2 linked regions of the Homo sapiens genome follow. The protein of the gene in region 1 interacts with the protein of each later gene in a pairwise test. Each region holds a gene or a part of one and is shown on either strand. Other genes may lie near its edges.

The links. Proteins that work in one complex are often made in the same cells at the same time.
Region 2: the proteins of GOLGA1 (region 1) and PDCL2 interact in a two-hybrid assay, tested with the Homo sapiens proteins (2 studies listed by BioGRID).

What each region holds. Positions count from the first base shown.
Region 1 is NC_000009.12:124,929,986-124,938,900, forward strand, and holds part of GOLGA1 (golgin subfamily A member 1), read right to left. Parts: intron 8,882-8,915; 5' UTR 8,727-8,881; coding exon 8,592-8,726; intron 1,422-8,591; coding exon 1,331-1,421; intron 1-1,330. UniProt on the Homo sapiens protein: Involved in vesicular trafficking at the Golgi apparatus level. Involved in endosome-to-Golgi trafficking. Mechanistically, captures transport vesicles arriving from endosomes via the protein TBC1D23.
Region 2 is NC_000004.12:55,575,140-55,583,266, forward strand, and holds part of PDCL2 (phosducin-like protein 2), read right to left. Parts: intron 7,099-8,127; coding exon 6,978-7,098; intron 5,773-6,977; coding exon 5,682-5,772; intron 1-5,681. UniProt on the Homo sapiens protein: Essential for male fertility, spermiogenesis and acrosome formation.

The DNA.
Region 1 (8,915 bases):
GATGATATTAATTGTACCTACCACAAAAGATGCATTAGATAAAACATTTTACGTGCCTTAAGTGCTTTGCACACAGTGCTCAATAAAATGTAGCTCTTATTGTTACTGTGACTATTATCATTACTCATACTAATACTGTAGGACAATACTCACCACATAGTGGGCCCAGTAAATGTCAGTGCTCTTCCCTGTCCCTTCTCTAACGTAAGTCAAGCTCAACTATTCTTCCTACCATATGGGGAAGGTATATATATTATTTTATAACTCTCTCTCCAACATTAAACAAATGTAAAATTACTTTACCTCTGTTACTGATATTATTTATGGGTAGGAGTAACAGGATAGCAACAATTAAGTTTAAGGCAGATGGAATTAAGACTCTAGCATCAAATAAATCTGGGTTTGGATCCCAGCTCTACCACTTACTACTTGTGAGGCCTTAACCTTGCTAAGCCTAATAAGGCTCTAGTGAGGACAAAATAATTAACTGGTAGTTGTGAGCTATGCTATGAACCTTTGATAACTACATAAATACAAATACTTCACATACAATTTGGTGAATTTGGGTCTGATAGCTACACAAATATAAATATTTCACATACCACTTGGTGAACTTCGGTCTGCTGTTTTACTCCAATAAAATGGGCATTAAAAGGCCAAGGGACAAAAAGAGACACAGAAGCCATGAACCACTTTACAGGATGAAGCTTTCCAAATGTATCCACTGGCAGAAACCAAAATAATAACTCACAATTCTATCATGACCATGCCCTCCTCAGGCAAAGGATATAATGGGAGCTGTGTAAATTGTAAACTGCAGACAAAAGACATAATGAGAGTGACACCTTCTATGCAGGTGCTGAAGTCAGAAATACCATTGAAAAGTGGCCCAAAGACCTACAACAACACTTACACAGGTGGTATGAGCTGCAGGAAGTGGCAACACAGCACCAATCTCTGGTGCTGATGAATCCAATATCTGTTGGCCATTCCCTTTAAATACTAACGCCATCCCTTTCCACCTGAAAGCAGGCTATGCTAATGGTGGAAGATGGTCAAATCTATTGTACATATATTATTATTATCTTTTATTTCCATGGCTAGAAACCTCAGGAGCAGAAAAAATTTTTTAATAAACTTTCAAATTCAGTTTTGAATTTATACTATTTACTACACTAACAAAAGAAGAGGGTATACTTGCTCCTTTCTAAAAAGATCAAAATGATATGTGAAAATAACTATAAAGTCATCCTATATGGCTATTTTATAGGAAGAGAGTCAAGCAAGGCAAGTTTCCTGTTGTTTGCTTTTTATGAGTTCTTAGACATACCAGAAAGTCTGGCCTCTAACTTCCGTATCTGTTCATTCCTTCTCAGAAGCTGGGATGAAAGATCTTCTCTGGAGCTGCTTCCATCGGAAGCCTGTTGAGGTAGACACAAGGAAGGTCGTATTCATATATGTGTGAGACCACAATACTGAGCCAGAAAGTGACAAGTCTTATTTTAGGTTTGGTTACACTTTAATTAATTGTAATCACTGAAAAGCTGGGCCTAGTTTCTCTACCTGGAAAGTGGAAGCAACGCTTTCTTCCTCTTATAAAGTGAAGGAGAGAGGAGATGCTAAACAGATCAATTTTATGTGTACGCATGCTACTGAAATAAATAATAGTAAATAGATCCATTATTACAGCAAGTATATAATACAAAAACTATATTTGCCATGATAAAAAAATCACTTTATCTTTCCAAAAGTAAAGTCCTGGGATAAAGAAGGCGGGGGTTCTTTAGGGATCAAAAGCTGGTCTATGACTACGAATCTTTCACCGATATTGATAAAGTTTCAGTATCTTCATCTATGAAACAAACGGATATCAATCTAAAACTCTAACTTGCATCATAGACTTCAGCAGATAATATGCATTCAACAAACCAATATATTAATGAGGCATACATTTTTCCCCAACAAACCAGATTATTTTAAAATAAATGAATACTACTATTGCTATAGGCACTGCTTGCAATTGCTAATAACTCAGTTTTTAAAATCTCTTTTACTTTTCATTATACAATTTTTCAAAATATAGAAAGGGAGAGAGATTGGTCTAAATAATGCTCTCCATCTACTTTCACAATTGCTGATGCTTTCCCTTATTTGCTTCATCAATTTTTATTTTTCTGAAGTAATTTAAATAACAGACATCATGGCATTTCATCCTAAATACTCCAAAAATTAAGGCTATTTCTCTTCATAGGCAACATATGATTATCATTCCTAACAAAAAATACTAACATCCAGTCCTTAATCATGTTTCCCATTGTATCCCCAAAATGTTTTTAAAGATTATTCAATAATTCACCTCAAATATTCATCTACATGTCCAGCCACTTGCCCATCCAATATGTACTGAGAGTCAGGACAGTGGACAGTTAAGAGGAGAGTCTCTGGTGTCAGAAAACCTTGCTTCAGGTTGCAGCTTTACCACTTACGAGCTGTAAGAACTTAGGCTCATTACTCAACTTCTCTGTGCACTGGTTTCCTCATTTGCAATCTGTGATAACAAACAGCATTTGCCTCACAGAGCTGTGATGAGGATTAAGTAAATCAATACTTGTCAAATCCCTAAAACACAGCCTGGCACATATTAGCTTTAATATGTGTCATCTATTACTAGTTGTCTTAGTCTGTTTGAGTGCTATAATGAAATGCCATAGAATGTGTGACTTATAAACAACAGAAATGTATTTCTCACAGTTCTGGAGCCTAGGAAGTCCAAAATTAAGGTGCCAGCAGATTTGGTGTCTAGTGAAGACCCACTTTCTGGTTCATACATGACACCTTCTAGCTGTGCCCTCACATGGTGGAAGGGGCAAGGCAGCTTTCTGGGGCCTCTTTTGTAAGAGCACTAATCTCATTCATGAGGGTTCCTCCCTCATGAGCTAATCATCTCGGAGACGATTCACCTCCTCATTCCATCACTCTAGTGATTAGGTTTCAACATATCAATTTTTGGAGACATACATTCAGACCACACCACTAGCAGTATAAGAAGCTGTTATGATTATTACTGTTAGTGAGACATAGGAGACATCCTATGTCTCACTACTGTGCTAAGCACTAGGAATAGTGGTGAAACAAAGAGCTCCTATCCAAAATAACAGCAGCAGCAGCAACAGAAGCTAATTATGAAATGCTTAGAGCCAGACGCCATGCTAAGTGCTTTAGATTCTACGCAGAAGAACTGACATTACAGGCCTCAGACTGTTATCCTTAGAAAGGCCTGCTTTTAAGGTTGGTCCTTGGCTGGCATCTGGGAACTTAGATTTTGGGAGGGTTCCCATCATTCTGTTAAGAATGGCTCATTGTGCCTAAAATGTTTGTGCAAAAATATGGGTTTATGCTGAATACCTGGTTTCCTTCTGGAGTCTGGATTATTTATTTATTTATTTATTTATTTAGACAGAGTCTCGCTCTGTCACCCAGGCTGGAGTGCAGTGGTACAATGTTGGCTCACTGTAACCTCTGCCTCTTGGGTTCAAGAGATTCTCCTGCCTCCTGAGTAGCTGGGACTACAGGTGTGTGTCACCATGCTCAGCTAATATTTGTATTTTTAGTAGAGACAGGGTTTCGCCATGTTGGCCAGGCTGGTCTCAAATTCCTGACCTCAACTGATCCATCTGCCTTGGTCCCCCAAAGTGCTGGGATTACAGGTGTGAGCCACCCTGCCTGGCCTGGATTCTGGAATTTTGATACATAGTAGGCAGAGGGTGTTCACATGACCAGTCCCCAATAAAAAGCCTGGACACTGAGTCTCTAATGAGCTTCCCTGGTAGACATTTTACATGTGTTGTCACAACTCATTGCTGGGAGAATGGAGCATGTCCTATGTAATTCCACTGGGAGAAGAATCTTGGAAGCTTGCACCTGTTTCCTCCAAGCTTTTCCCCATGCACCTTTTCCCTTTGCTGAGTCTGTTTTAGATCCTTTCACTGTAATAAATGATAGCAGTGAGTAAAACTATATGGTGAGTCTTGTGAGTCCTCCTAGTGAATAATTAAATCTGGGGATGATCTTGGGGATCCTTGACACACATACTTTAATAAAGGTAGATACAGTTCCTATCCCCATTTTATAGATGTGAAAAATAAGGCAAGGAAAAATGAAGAAATTTGCCCAAAGTCACATAATAATAATAGAGCAGATATGACTCTATAACCTGACCTGAGTTCCTAAGGGCTACACTTTATTGTCTTTCATGAAACTCCCAGTTCAGTGGAAGAGACAAACAAGCAAATCATCAATAATAATGCAGTACAGCAGGTGCTATTACAGAGGTTAGCAGAAGACAAGGCACCAAACAGCCAGGAGGGGTAAAGGGTAGGGGGCTGCCAGAGGAGAAGGTCAGGTCAAGGGAGTTTGCTGGAAGTAACACATGAGCTGAGTCTTAAGATGCACAAGAGTCTGTCAGAGGAATGCAGGAGTGAAAGGGGAAATGAGACATTCTAGAGAGAGGAAATAGCATGTGCAAAAATTGTAAGCATGAAAGAATGTGGTCCATTCTAGAAAGTGCAATAAATTCAGTCTGGCTGTGGCACAGGGTGTAGCAAAGTACAGTGAGATAATGCTGGCCATATAAGCTGAGAGAAGACCATGACAGTTTACCATTATGCTATAATAATGAGTCTGTACTTCATCCTGAAAATAATGGGGAAGCCACTGAGTTTTATGAGTTTTAAGTACTGGAGAGACATGAACAGATCTGCTTTTAGAAAGATCACTTTGGGCTGTGCACAGTGGCTAGCACCTGCAGTCCCAGTACTTTGGGAGGCCAAGGTGGGCAGATCGTTTGAGCCCAGGAGTTCGAGACCAGCCTAAGCAACATGGCAAAACTCCGTCGCTACAAAAAATACAAAAATTAGCTGGGTGTGGCGGCACGTGCCTGTAGTCCCAACTACTCACGAGGCTGAAATGGGAGAATCGCTTGAGCCCAGGAGGTTAAGGCTGCAGTGGGCTGTGATCGGGCCACTGCACTCCAGCCTGGGTGCCAGAAAGAGATCCCTGTCTCAAAGAAAAAAAAAGGTCACTTTGGGGACAGGGAACCCAGATAGACTACAAGTTTGTCCCAGAAAGAAAGGCAGCTTGAAATCAAATGATAGTATAGGTTGAGTATCTCTTGCCCAAACAGTTTAGGATCAGAAGTGTTTTGGAGTTTGGATTTTTTCAGATTTTGGAATGTCTGCATATACATAATATAATATTTTGGGGATGGGACCCAAGTGTAAACGTGAAATTATGTTCCATATACGTTTTATACACATAGCCTGAACATAATTTTATACAATATTTTAAATGATATGCATTAAACAAAGTTGTGTTAAGTATTTATGTGTAAATTTTCCACTTGTGGCCATGTTGGCGCTCAAAAAGTTTAAGATTTTGGAGTATTTCAGATTTCAAATTTTCAGATTAGGGATGCTTAACCTCTGCTAGTAAATGTACTACTAGAAGATGGAGTAGGGAGGCAAGTTTGAGACATTTAAGAAATGAAAGCTGCCTGTAATCCTAGCACTTTGGGAGGCCAAGGCAAGAGGATTGCCTGAACTCAGGAGTTCAAGACCAGACTGGGCACACGGTGAAACCTCATCTCTACTAAAAATACAAAAAACTAGCCAAGTGTGGCGGTGTGTGCCTGTAGTCCCAGCTACTTGGGAGGCTGAGTGAGGCAGGAGAATTGCTTGAACCCAGGGTCCAGCCTGGGCGACACAGCAAGACTCTGTCTCCAAAAAAAAAAAAAAAAAAGAAAGAAATAGAAGCCATAATACGTGTTGACTGATTGGACACCAAGAAGTGAAAGGAGGGAAGAGCCTAAAATACCTCCAGGGTTTCTGGCTGGTGACTTGGGAAGATGAAGGTGCACATTTGGAGATGGAAATAATGAATTCAATTTTGTTCATTTAGAATTTGAGATGCCACAGAGGAGGGATCTGTTTGGAGAAACATATGCAGTTGGATATAAGGGTCTGGAGATAGGAACTGAGGATCAGGCTGTATTAAGTTCAAAACTTGAGAAACCCCAAAATAAATTACTTCCTGAATCTGGGTCAATCTCTGTATTTGGAATACATTACTAAATAAAAGACTTCATTTAGGGTGTCAGCATGAAGGCAAAACAGGTCCATCTGTCACAGAACCCAGCCTTAAAACTACATCCTTCAGCCCGATGCTCAAATGTGTGCTTATATTTCCTCTTAAATATAGGAGCCAGTGATAATGTAGATCTGGTAATCTTATTGCTCCATCCCGATAACCTAATAACTTCTGCCATGTAATCTGACCTGGGATCCAGGCAGTACAAGAAAGCAGGAGGAAGACTCATCTGACAACGGAAACAATTCAAATGTCTATCGCCAGGAGAAGACAGACATTAAATGTGGCCTTTTCAAATGCTGGGATCTTTTTTTTAAAAAAAATCTTTAGAGACAGAGTCTTGCTCTGTTGCCTAAGCTGGAGTACAGTGGCACGATCATAGCTCACTACAATCCCAAACTCCTGGGCTCAAGCGATCCTCTTGCCTCTGCCTCCCAAGAAGCTAGGACTACAGGCATACCACCACCAACCAGGCAAATTAAAAAAAAAAAAAAAAACTTTTGTAGATATGCAGTCTTGCTATGTTGCCCAAGCTGGTCTTGAACTTCTGGCCTCAAGCAGTCCTTCCGCCTTAGCTTCCCAAAGCATTGGGATTACAGGCGTGAGCTTCTGTGTCCAGCCTGGAATCTTATACAGCAGTAAAAATAAATGAACCACAGCTTCCTGTAACATGGATGCATTTTATAAGCATGTTGAATTAAATTTTAAAAAAGGAAATCCAAGAAGTCTACAGTGTGCAACTTTTATAACTTCAAAAACAAGCAGTATTAAATAATAAATTGTTTATGAATACATACATATCTGGTAAGATATTTTAAAAAGCAAGTAAATGAAAAATACAAAATTTAGAATAGTGGTTATGCTATCCTAAATTGGGTAGAGGAAATTGGAAGAAACATATAAGTGGCTTAACAGAATTGATAGTGTTCTATCTCTTCAGATGAGTGATAGATTTACTTTATGCTTTATACTTTACATATATATTACATACATTCTTTTATATATATATCCAGCATTATAAATGAGTTTTAAAGAAATTTATTGCCAAGTGTGGTGGCTCACCCCTGTAATCCTAGCACTTTGGGAGACCGACGCGGGAGGATCACGAGGTCAGGAGTTCCAGACCAGCCTGGCCAACACAGTGAAACTCTGTCTCTACTAAAAATACAAAAATTAGCTGGACGTGGTGGCGGGTGCCTGTAGTCCCAAGCTACTCAGGAGGCTGAGGCAGGAGAATCGCCTGAACCCGGGAGATGGAGGTTGCAGTGAGCCGAGATTGTGCTGCTGCACTCCACCCTAGGTGACAGAGCGAGACCCTATCTCAAAAACAATAAACTAAAAACAAAAAAAAATTAGCCGGGTGTGGTCGTGGGCACCTGCAGTCCCAGCTACTTGGGAGGCTGAGGCAGGAGAACTGCTTGAACCCGGGAGGTGGAGGATGCAATGAGCTGAGATCATGCCACTGCACTCCGGCCTGGCTGACAGAGTGAGACTCTGTCTCAAAAAAAAAAAAAAGAAGAGAAAAGAAATTTATCTAACTTAAGAGGATCCTGTCATATGCAAAAGCCACACTTTATTTTTTAAGCATGACATTTCCCTCATATAGCAACATCTTCATTTTTTGAAATCTTATAGTCACAAATGTATTTTACTAATAAGAAACATATTGTAGGCTGGGCATGGTGGCTCACGCCTGTAATCCCAGCACTTTGGGAGGCCAAGGTGGGCGGATCGCCTGAGCTCAGGAGTTTGAGACCACCCTGGGCAACATGGTAAAAACCTGTCTCTACTAAAATACAAAAAATTAGCCAGGCATGGTGGAACACACCTGTAGTCCCAGCTACTCGGGAGGCTGAGGCACGAGAATTGCTTGAGCCCCAGAGGCAGAGGTTGTGGTGAACCAAGATCAGGCCACTGCACTCCACTTTGGGCTACAGAGCGAGAATCCATCTCAAAAAAAAAAAAAAAAGAAAGAAAAAAGAAAAAAAGCAACATACTGTAATCACTGGGGCCATCTTTCCAACAATCGTCCCAATACAACAATGCACTCTTGCTAACCCCATACCACAACTCAGAGACCTTGTTAAGCAGCAATGACTTAGTTGTTATATAAGTATATATGTCTGCAATGAAAACAGGCCCAGACATTTTCAGAAATGAAATGCAAAAGAAGATGTATAAGGTATATAGACGGAAAAACAGTACAAGAGGACACTGGAGAGAATATGGAGAGGAACTCACAGAAAAATAAGGAAAAAAATATAGAGTACCTTAACATTTACAAACCAAACATTAACAAAAAGGTACCTCAGAGTAAGAAGAATCAGATGTACAGGCTCTTGTACAGCTATAAACCATGAAAGGTATGAAATAATCAAGCAATTTAAAATATTTATTGGAAGAATACCCTGCAAAAGTATCTTTATTTCTTAAGTAAAGGTACTTACAAAGTCATCTCCTGAGTCAGCTCCCATTGAGGCAACTGATTCCTTGCTCACAGACCGTGGGATCCTAGTAGCACCTCCTGGCCTCTGAGCAACAGCAGTCTCTTCTGCAATTTTCTTCTTCAGTTTTGCAAACATGTTTGCTGTGTGGCTATCCTGCACAGATGACGAGCTCTCAGTAGTCCTGGTGCCTGTGTTCAGGATTCAGACAGAGGCGCCTACAAAGTTTCAGACATCCAAGCTAGCTGCATTCCCACTTAAATGTGGGCCAAGGGCTTATGGCAACACAGGATCTACAAATCAGATGAAAGAGACAGTTCAAAAGTT
Region 2 (8,127 bases), on another chromosome or scaffold:
AAATGAATTGTAGAACACCCAGTTGGTGTCCAGAAAGTTGGAGAATTGGTTGTGGGGGACCCTGCCCCAACATTTCATGTCAGAAGTGGTATGAGTAAAACATACCAGAGGAACTAAAAAGTACAGTAACTAAAATTAAAAAAATACATTGGAGAGTTCCAAAAGCAGATTTGAGGAAGCAGAAGAATCAGCAACCTTGAAAATAGGACAACTGCAATGATCAAATCTGAGAAAAAAAAAAGAATGAAAAAAAAATAAACAGGGCCTAAAGGGTCTGTGGGATGATATAAAGCAGACCAACACACATGTTGTGTGAATCTCAACAGAAAAGAGAGAGAAAAGAAGCATAAAGGATATTTTAAGAAATAATGGCTGAAAACTTCCCAAATTTGATGAAATACATTAATCTATAAACTCAAGTGTCCAACAAACTCCAAGTATGATAAAAGTATGATAAACTCAAAGACACCCACATGGGGATACATCATAAACTACTGAAAGGCAAGAAGAGACAATGAGAATCTTGAAAGCAGAGAGAAGCAAGTCATCACATACAAGGGATCTTCAATAAGACTATCAGCCAGTTTCTCAGCAGAAATTTTGGAAGCCAAAAAGGCAGTGAGTTGATATTTTTTAAATGCTGAGAGAAAACAACTGTCAAAAGCAAGAATTCGATATTTGGCAAAACTATGCTTCAAGAATGAGGGTAAATTAATGCATTCCTAGATTTAAAAAATAAAAATAAAAACAAAAAAACACCAAGGGACCTAGACCTGCCTAAAAAATATGTGAAAGGAGTCCTTCAGGCTGAAATGAAAGAGCACCAGATAGTATCCAAAGCCACATGAAGAAACGAGGAACATGGTGAAGTTAACTACATAGGGAAATATAATAGCCAGTATTACCATTTGGCTTTTACATAGGAAAATGTAAAAGCCATTATTGGAATTGGTTTCTTTTTTTTTTCTTTTTGAGACAGTCTTGCTTTGTTGCCTAGGCTGGAGTGCCGTGGCGCGATCTTAGCTTACTGCAACCTCTGCCTCCCAGGTTCAAGCAATTCTCACACCTAGCCTCCTGAGTAGCTGGGATTACAGGGGTGTGCCACCATGCCCAGCTAAATTTTTTGTATTTTTATTAGAGACGGGGTTTCACCATGTTGGCCAGGCTGGTCTCAAACTCCTGAACTCAGGCGATTTGCCCACCTCTGCCTCCCAAAGCACTGGGATTACAGGCGTAAGCCATCATGCCTGGCCTAGAGTTGGTTTCTAACTTCTCTTTTTTTCCTGTATGATATAAAAGGTAAATACATAAAGCAATAATAATAATCTATGTTAATGGATGCACAATATATAACAATGTAGTCTGTGACACTAACAAATAAGGAGAAGGATGGAGATGTGTTTACATGCTATTGACTCTAAGTTGGTATTATTCAAAGTAGGCCACTGTAAGACGTTAATTTTTATCCTTAAGATAATCACTATGAAAAAACTAAAAGATACACAGAAAATGAAAGAAGAAGGAAATAAAAATGGTACACTAGAAAAATCAGCTAACTGTGAAAAGAAAGCAGTAATGGAAGACTTAAAAAACAAAAATTATGTAAGAAATACAGAAAACACCTAAGTAGCAGAAGCAACTCCTTTCTTAACAGTACTTACTTTAAATGTAAGTGAATTTTAAATTAATATGATTAATCTCCAACTAAAGGCAAAGACTGGCAAAACAAATTTTAAAAAAAGCATGTTCCAGATTTCTCAGTCCTTTTTTTTTTTTGAGACGGAGTCTTGCTCTGTCGCCCAGGCTGGAGTGCAGTGGCACAATCTCGGCTCACTGCAACCTCTGCCTCCCAGATTCAAGCAATTCTCCTGCCTCAGCCTCCCGAGTAGGTGGGATTACAGGTACAGGCCACTACACCCAACTAATTTTTGTATTTTAGTAGAAACAGGGTTTCACCATGTTGGCCAGGCTGGTTCGAACTCCTGACTCAGGTGATCCGCCTGCCTTGGTCTCCCAAAGTGCTGGGATTACAGGCATGGGCCACTGTGCCTGGCCTTCTCAGGCCTCTTTTATAAGAGCATTAATCCCGTTCATAAAGGGGTAGCCCTCATGACCTAATTACCTCCCTAAGGCTCCACCTCTTAATGCCATCACATTGGGAGGGGATTAGGTTTCAACATATGAATTTGGGGGGGACACAAACATTCAGACCACAGCACCATCATTTAGTGGTTTTTATGGAGGTTTCATTAGATAGGCATGATTGACTAAATCGTTGGCCACTGGTGATTAACTCAATCTCTAGCCCCTCTCCCCTCTCCAGAGAGCAGGGAATAGTGTTAAAAGTTCTAACCTTCTAATCACATGGTTGGTTCCTCTGGCAACCAGCCCTCATCCTAAAGCTACTAGGATCCCCTCCACCAAGGATCATCTCATAAGCATACCAAAGGTACTTTTATCACCTAGCAAATTCCAAGTATGTTTGTGTCAGGAACTGGGGACAAAGATCAGATATATATTTCTCATTATCACAGTTCCAGAATATCTTTTATTCCTGTTTATAACTTCTATTTCTTTATTGATATTCTCTTTTTGATCATACATTATATTCCTATCTTTTTAGCTCTTTAAGCATCCGTAAGATAGTTGTCTTAAAGTCTTTGTCTAGTAAGTCTGACTTCTGGGCTTCCTCAAGTACATTTTCTGTCAGTATATTTTGTTCCTTTGAATGGACTATACTTTCTTGTTTGTGTATGCCTTGTGATTTTTGTTGAAAACTAGATATTTGAATCCTATAATGTGGTAACTTTGGAAATAAGTTCTCCTCCTTTGCTGGGGTTTTGTTTTTGTTTTTGTTTTAATTGTTGTAGGCTGTCTTTGTGCTGGCGATCATTCTGAGGTAGAAGCTTTAAGGTCTTCTCAGGTATTTTTTGAGCCTGCATCTTCCCCGGAGTAAATGCACTGGCTTTCTATATTTTCCCAAAAGCACAGTTTGTTTTGAATCTTTAAAAAAGGTTATAGCTCTTTTAAATTCTCTGATAGCTGCCTGAGCCAGTGGGAGTTCACACAATGGCAGTGAGCCTCTGTCCCTGTACATCCATGTTCAGAAGGAGCAATCTGTAATAAGAACACAGAACCCCAATATTTGGAGGAAAAGGTCCTTATTGTCCACCCTGGCTCCAGCAAGCTGTGTCAGAAATACAGGTTGTCAGCTGCCTGTCATGGAGCTAGGGGTTGAGCATGAACAGCTGCTACTGAACTGAGGGCTGAAATCAACTGATACTGCCATTTACCAGCCAAGTTTTCACTTGGAAACTACAAGCATTCAATATTCTCCAGAGTACTAAAACAGTCACTTCAGACAGTTCCTGCTAGTACAATCTTTGATTAGGTAGAGATGTATTTTTGGAGTTCCCTATTCTGCTATTTTCCCTGATGTGTCATCAGTGGGTTTTTTTTTTTAATGAGTTCTTCAATTAGGGTTTATTTGAAGTTTTCTTATAATTAAAGTTATGCATTACTGAAAATGATACCACAGAGGTGATATGTCCTTCTCAGTACAACATACCAGGGGTTACTTGATCACCTCCCAGCATATTTTACTGGTGATATTAACCTTGATCATCTGCCTAAGATAGTATCTGCCTATAAACTTACTATTTCCTCCTTTATAATTACTAAATATTTGGGGAAGAATTCTTTGAAATTATGCAATATCCTGTTTGTGTTTAAACTTTCAACCAATCATTTTAGCATCCATCACTGGATCTTACCCATAGGAAATTACCACTGTTCTGATGGTGATTTTTCTATTTCTCTAATTTCATTTACACTTATTAATTAAAACTCTTCTGTAAGGGAGAGAGATTACTTCTTCCAAATTTGTTCATGTATTAAGTTATTTATTTATATCACTATGGACTTTTATAAATTTATTTCATTATTTGCTTTACAATCCTATCATATAATTATTGATTTTGTTGTTCAAGTTGTTCTAACTTTGGCCCTTGGGAGATCTGTCCATTTGACTCCTGGGACTTTTTTTTTTTTTAAGTACTTCCTTACCTACTGGCAACATAAGATGCTTCATATTCATATTATACTTTCCTAACACACACCGTGGGATCAAGCAGTTCGCTAAGGAGCACTAATTCCTGTTATTAGAGAATAGTATTTATTTGTTTTTTGTTTGTTTGTTTGTTTGTTTGAGATGGAGTTTCACTCTTGTTGCCCAGGCTGGAGTGCAATGGCACGATCTTGGCTCACTGCAACCTCCACCTCCCAGGTTCAGCGATTCTCCTGCCTCAGCTTCTCAAGTAGCTGGGATTACAGGCATGTGCTACAACGCCTGGCTAATTTAAAGACACGGGTTTCATCATGTTTGCCAGGCTGGTTTCAAACTCCTGACCTCAGGTGATCCACCCGCCTTGGCCTTCCAAAGTGCTGGAATTACAGGTGTGGGTCACCGCACCCTGCCTCAGAAAGATCTGAGTGCTATATGTGCTCATTGCTCCTGGAGTATGGCTGTTGTAACTCCATTCACTGGTGGCTTTTGGTTTTTATTTTTGTTTTGTAGAGACAGGGTCTTACTATGTTGACCAGGCTGGTCTGTAACTCCTAGCCTCAAGCAATCCTCCCACCATAGCCTCCCAAAGTCTGAGATTACAGGCATGAGCCACTGTGCCCAGCCCCAATTCACTGGTTTTTTGTTTGTTTTTTTTTTCGAGGTGGAGTTTCGCTCTTGTTGCCCAGGCTGGAGTGCAATGGCGCAATCTTGGCTCACCACAACCTCTGCCCCACCGGGTTCAAGCGATTCTCCTGCCTCAGCCTCCAGAGTAGCTGGGATTACAGGCAAGCACCACCATGCCTGGCTAACTTTGTATTTTTAGTAGAGACGGGGTTTCTGCATGTTGGTCAGGCTGGTCTCAAACTCCCGACCTCAGGTGATCCGTCTGCCTCAGCCTCCCAAAGTGCTAGGATTACAAGCATGAGCCACTGTGCCTGGTCCACTGTTTTTTTATTGTTAAAATGATCTTGCATTCCTGCAATCAATACTACTTGATCAAGATTTATTATTTCCTTAAATTGCTGGACTTAATTTGCCAATATTTCCTTAAAGATTTTGTGTTTACAGTCATGAGGGATATTTGTAGTACTCTGTTTTAGTGATGTCTTTGTCTGGTTTTAGTATCAGGATAAATACTGGTCTTGTAAAAAGTACTTTAGAAATTAGAACAGGTTCATACATTTCCCAACTTATTTTAGTTGTGAAGTAAGTTGGGAAATTTATGAACCTGTTCCAGTTTCTAAAATAATTTAAGAATAGTAATTAATTATTCATGAAATGATAGTCACCTTTGACAGACATCATGCTAGAAGGAAAATCATGGCCATCTTTTTATTGGCCTCTTATTGCTATTTTCCACTTTAATCGTATGTAGCTTGATGAAGTTATATTGTACATGATTGGATAATTTTCTATTAAATCAAAGGCAAAATATTAAGAAAAAATGATGTAATGATGTAATAAAATTCCACCTTATATAAAGGGAGTTTCAAAATGTTACTTAAAAATTAGTTTTGTTCTTTGTAAAATCTATGTGACAAGACAAATCTCTTTAGTTTTATTCTTATTATACTTCATTCAAAAATTTATAATTAACCCAAATGAATCACTGTACCTATATGTTTCAACAGCCTGCATATCTTCTTCATCAAATTCATCTTCAGCTTCCTTTAGCTGTGCAAGAGTCATCTTTTCAAATGGTTTCACTAAAACAACATAAATTATAGATTATCAAATTGTTTAAAAATTTTTTTACTATACAGTCAATGTCTAGAAAAAAACCGTCTTATACAAAGGAGATCAACAGTATCTTTAAACAGCCGGGTGCGATGGAATCCCAGTACTTTGATAGGTCGAGGTGGGTGGATCACTTTAGGTCAGGAGTTCAAGACCAACCTGGCCAACATGGTGAAACCCTATCTCTACTAAAAATACAAAAATTAGTCAGGTGTGGTGGCAGGCACCTGTAATCCTAGCTACTCGGGAGGCTGAGGCAGGAGAATCACTTGAACCCGAATGGCTGAGTTTGCAGTGAGCTGAGATCGCACCACTGCATTCCACCCTGGCCAACAAAGTTAGACTTGGTCTCAAAAAAACAAACAAAAAAGAGTATCTTTAAACAAACATAAAGCAGCCAGCCACCAAAAAAAGCTATAAATATTATAGAAAGTATAATATTAAAGTATTACTCCCTCAAAGTTCATAGAACTGACAGGCTACATTTAAAACTAGGTATGAAAATCAATTAGATTTCATAAATTTAGATTTCCCTCAAGTACCTAGAAATCTTGATAAATAATACATACTATAAAGAATGATCAAAATAGATGGTAATAAGGCAGAGGGACATGGTGGGAGAAGAAAGCTCACTTGGTTACACACCAGGATATTTCAGCTCTGTTATTAGCATGTGATTTTCAACATGTGAAATTAGTCATTTTAGGTGTCATATCCAAATACTGAAAGTAGTTGAGGGGGGTTATATTAAATGTTTATTTGTTTTGTTTTTTGAGATGGAGTCTTGCTCTGTTGCCCAGAGCAGTGCAGGAGTGCAGTGGCACGATCTCAGCTCACTGCAAGCTCCATCTCCTAGGTTCATGCCATTCTACTGCCTCAGCCTCCTGAGTAGCTGGGACTACAGGCACCCACCACCACACCTGGCTAATTTTGTTTTTGTATTTTTAGTAGAGATGGGGTTTCACCGTGTTAGCCAGGATGGTCTCGATCTCCTGACCTCGTGATCCGCTGGCCTCAGCCTCCCAAAGTGCTGGGATTACAGGTGTGAGCCACCATGCCCAGCCTATACTAAATGATTTCTAATGTCCTCTCTCCCACTATGTTCATGAAATACCTTAGTACTAACTTAACTGTATTATTCCCATCATCCAGCCCACCAAATCTACGACCATACCCATTGCTTCTTTCTGTAAACGTAAAACCATTTCTTCAATTTCATCTTTTGACTCTTCTTTAGGAGGAAGAATGCCGAAATCTCTTAAAATGTCATTCCATTCTGTATCTTCATTGGGATCCTACACAAAAAGAAAAGAAAAGAAAATTAACATGGTTGTACACTTTAATATGTATTTGGAAAATTCATTAAGATGTAGCACTTCCAAGTATTCAATTGTTCATGAACTCTACAGTTAATTGGTTTTGAAGAATAAAGCAAAGTGACCTACTTTTTCCTGCTTCCCAGCACTAATGGGATTATATGCTCCACTCAAAATTTTAATAAAATATCAATTTAGAATACATATAGAGAATATTAAGGAAGTATCTCCTAAGTCATGGAAAATTTGCTGAAGACTGTATTGGGCAAAACCAATTCACATCATACACAAATACAGTTTGGTTTCTTTTTCTACAGAAGCATTCAAGACCATCAGATGAACTTCCTTTTTTCTTTTTTTTATTATACTTTAAGTTCTAGGGTACATGTGCACAATGTGCAGGTTTGTTACATATGCATACATGTGCCATGTTTGTGTGCTGCACCCATTAACTCGTCATTTACATTAGGTATATCTCCTAATGCTATCCCTCCCCCCTCCCCCAAGCCCATGACAGGCCCCGGTGTGTGATGTTCCCCTTCCCGTGTCCAAGTGTTCTCATTGTTCAATTCCCACCTATGAGTGAGAACATGTGGTGTTTGGTTTTTTGTCCCTGTGACAGTTTGCTGAGAATGATGGTTTCCAGCTTCATCCATGTCCCTACAGAGGACATGAACTCATCCTTTTTTATGGCTGCATAGTATTCCCTTTTATTTTATTTTATTTTTTTTGAGACAGAGAGATTCTTGCTCTATCACCCAAGCTGGAATGCAGTGGCACAATCTTGGCTCACTGCAACCTCCACCTCCTGGGTTCAAGTAATTCTCATGCCTCAGCCTCCTGAGTAGCTGAGACTACAGGCTTGCTCCACCAGGCCCAGCTAATGTTTGTATTTTTACAGGGTTTCCCCATGTTGCTCCAGCTGGTCTTGAACTCCTGGCCTCAAGTGATCCTCCCTCCTCAGCCTTCCAAACTGCTGGGATTATCTTTGCTAATTTTAAAATTGGG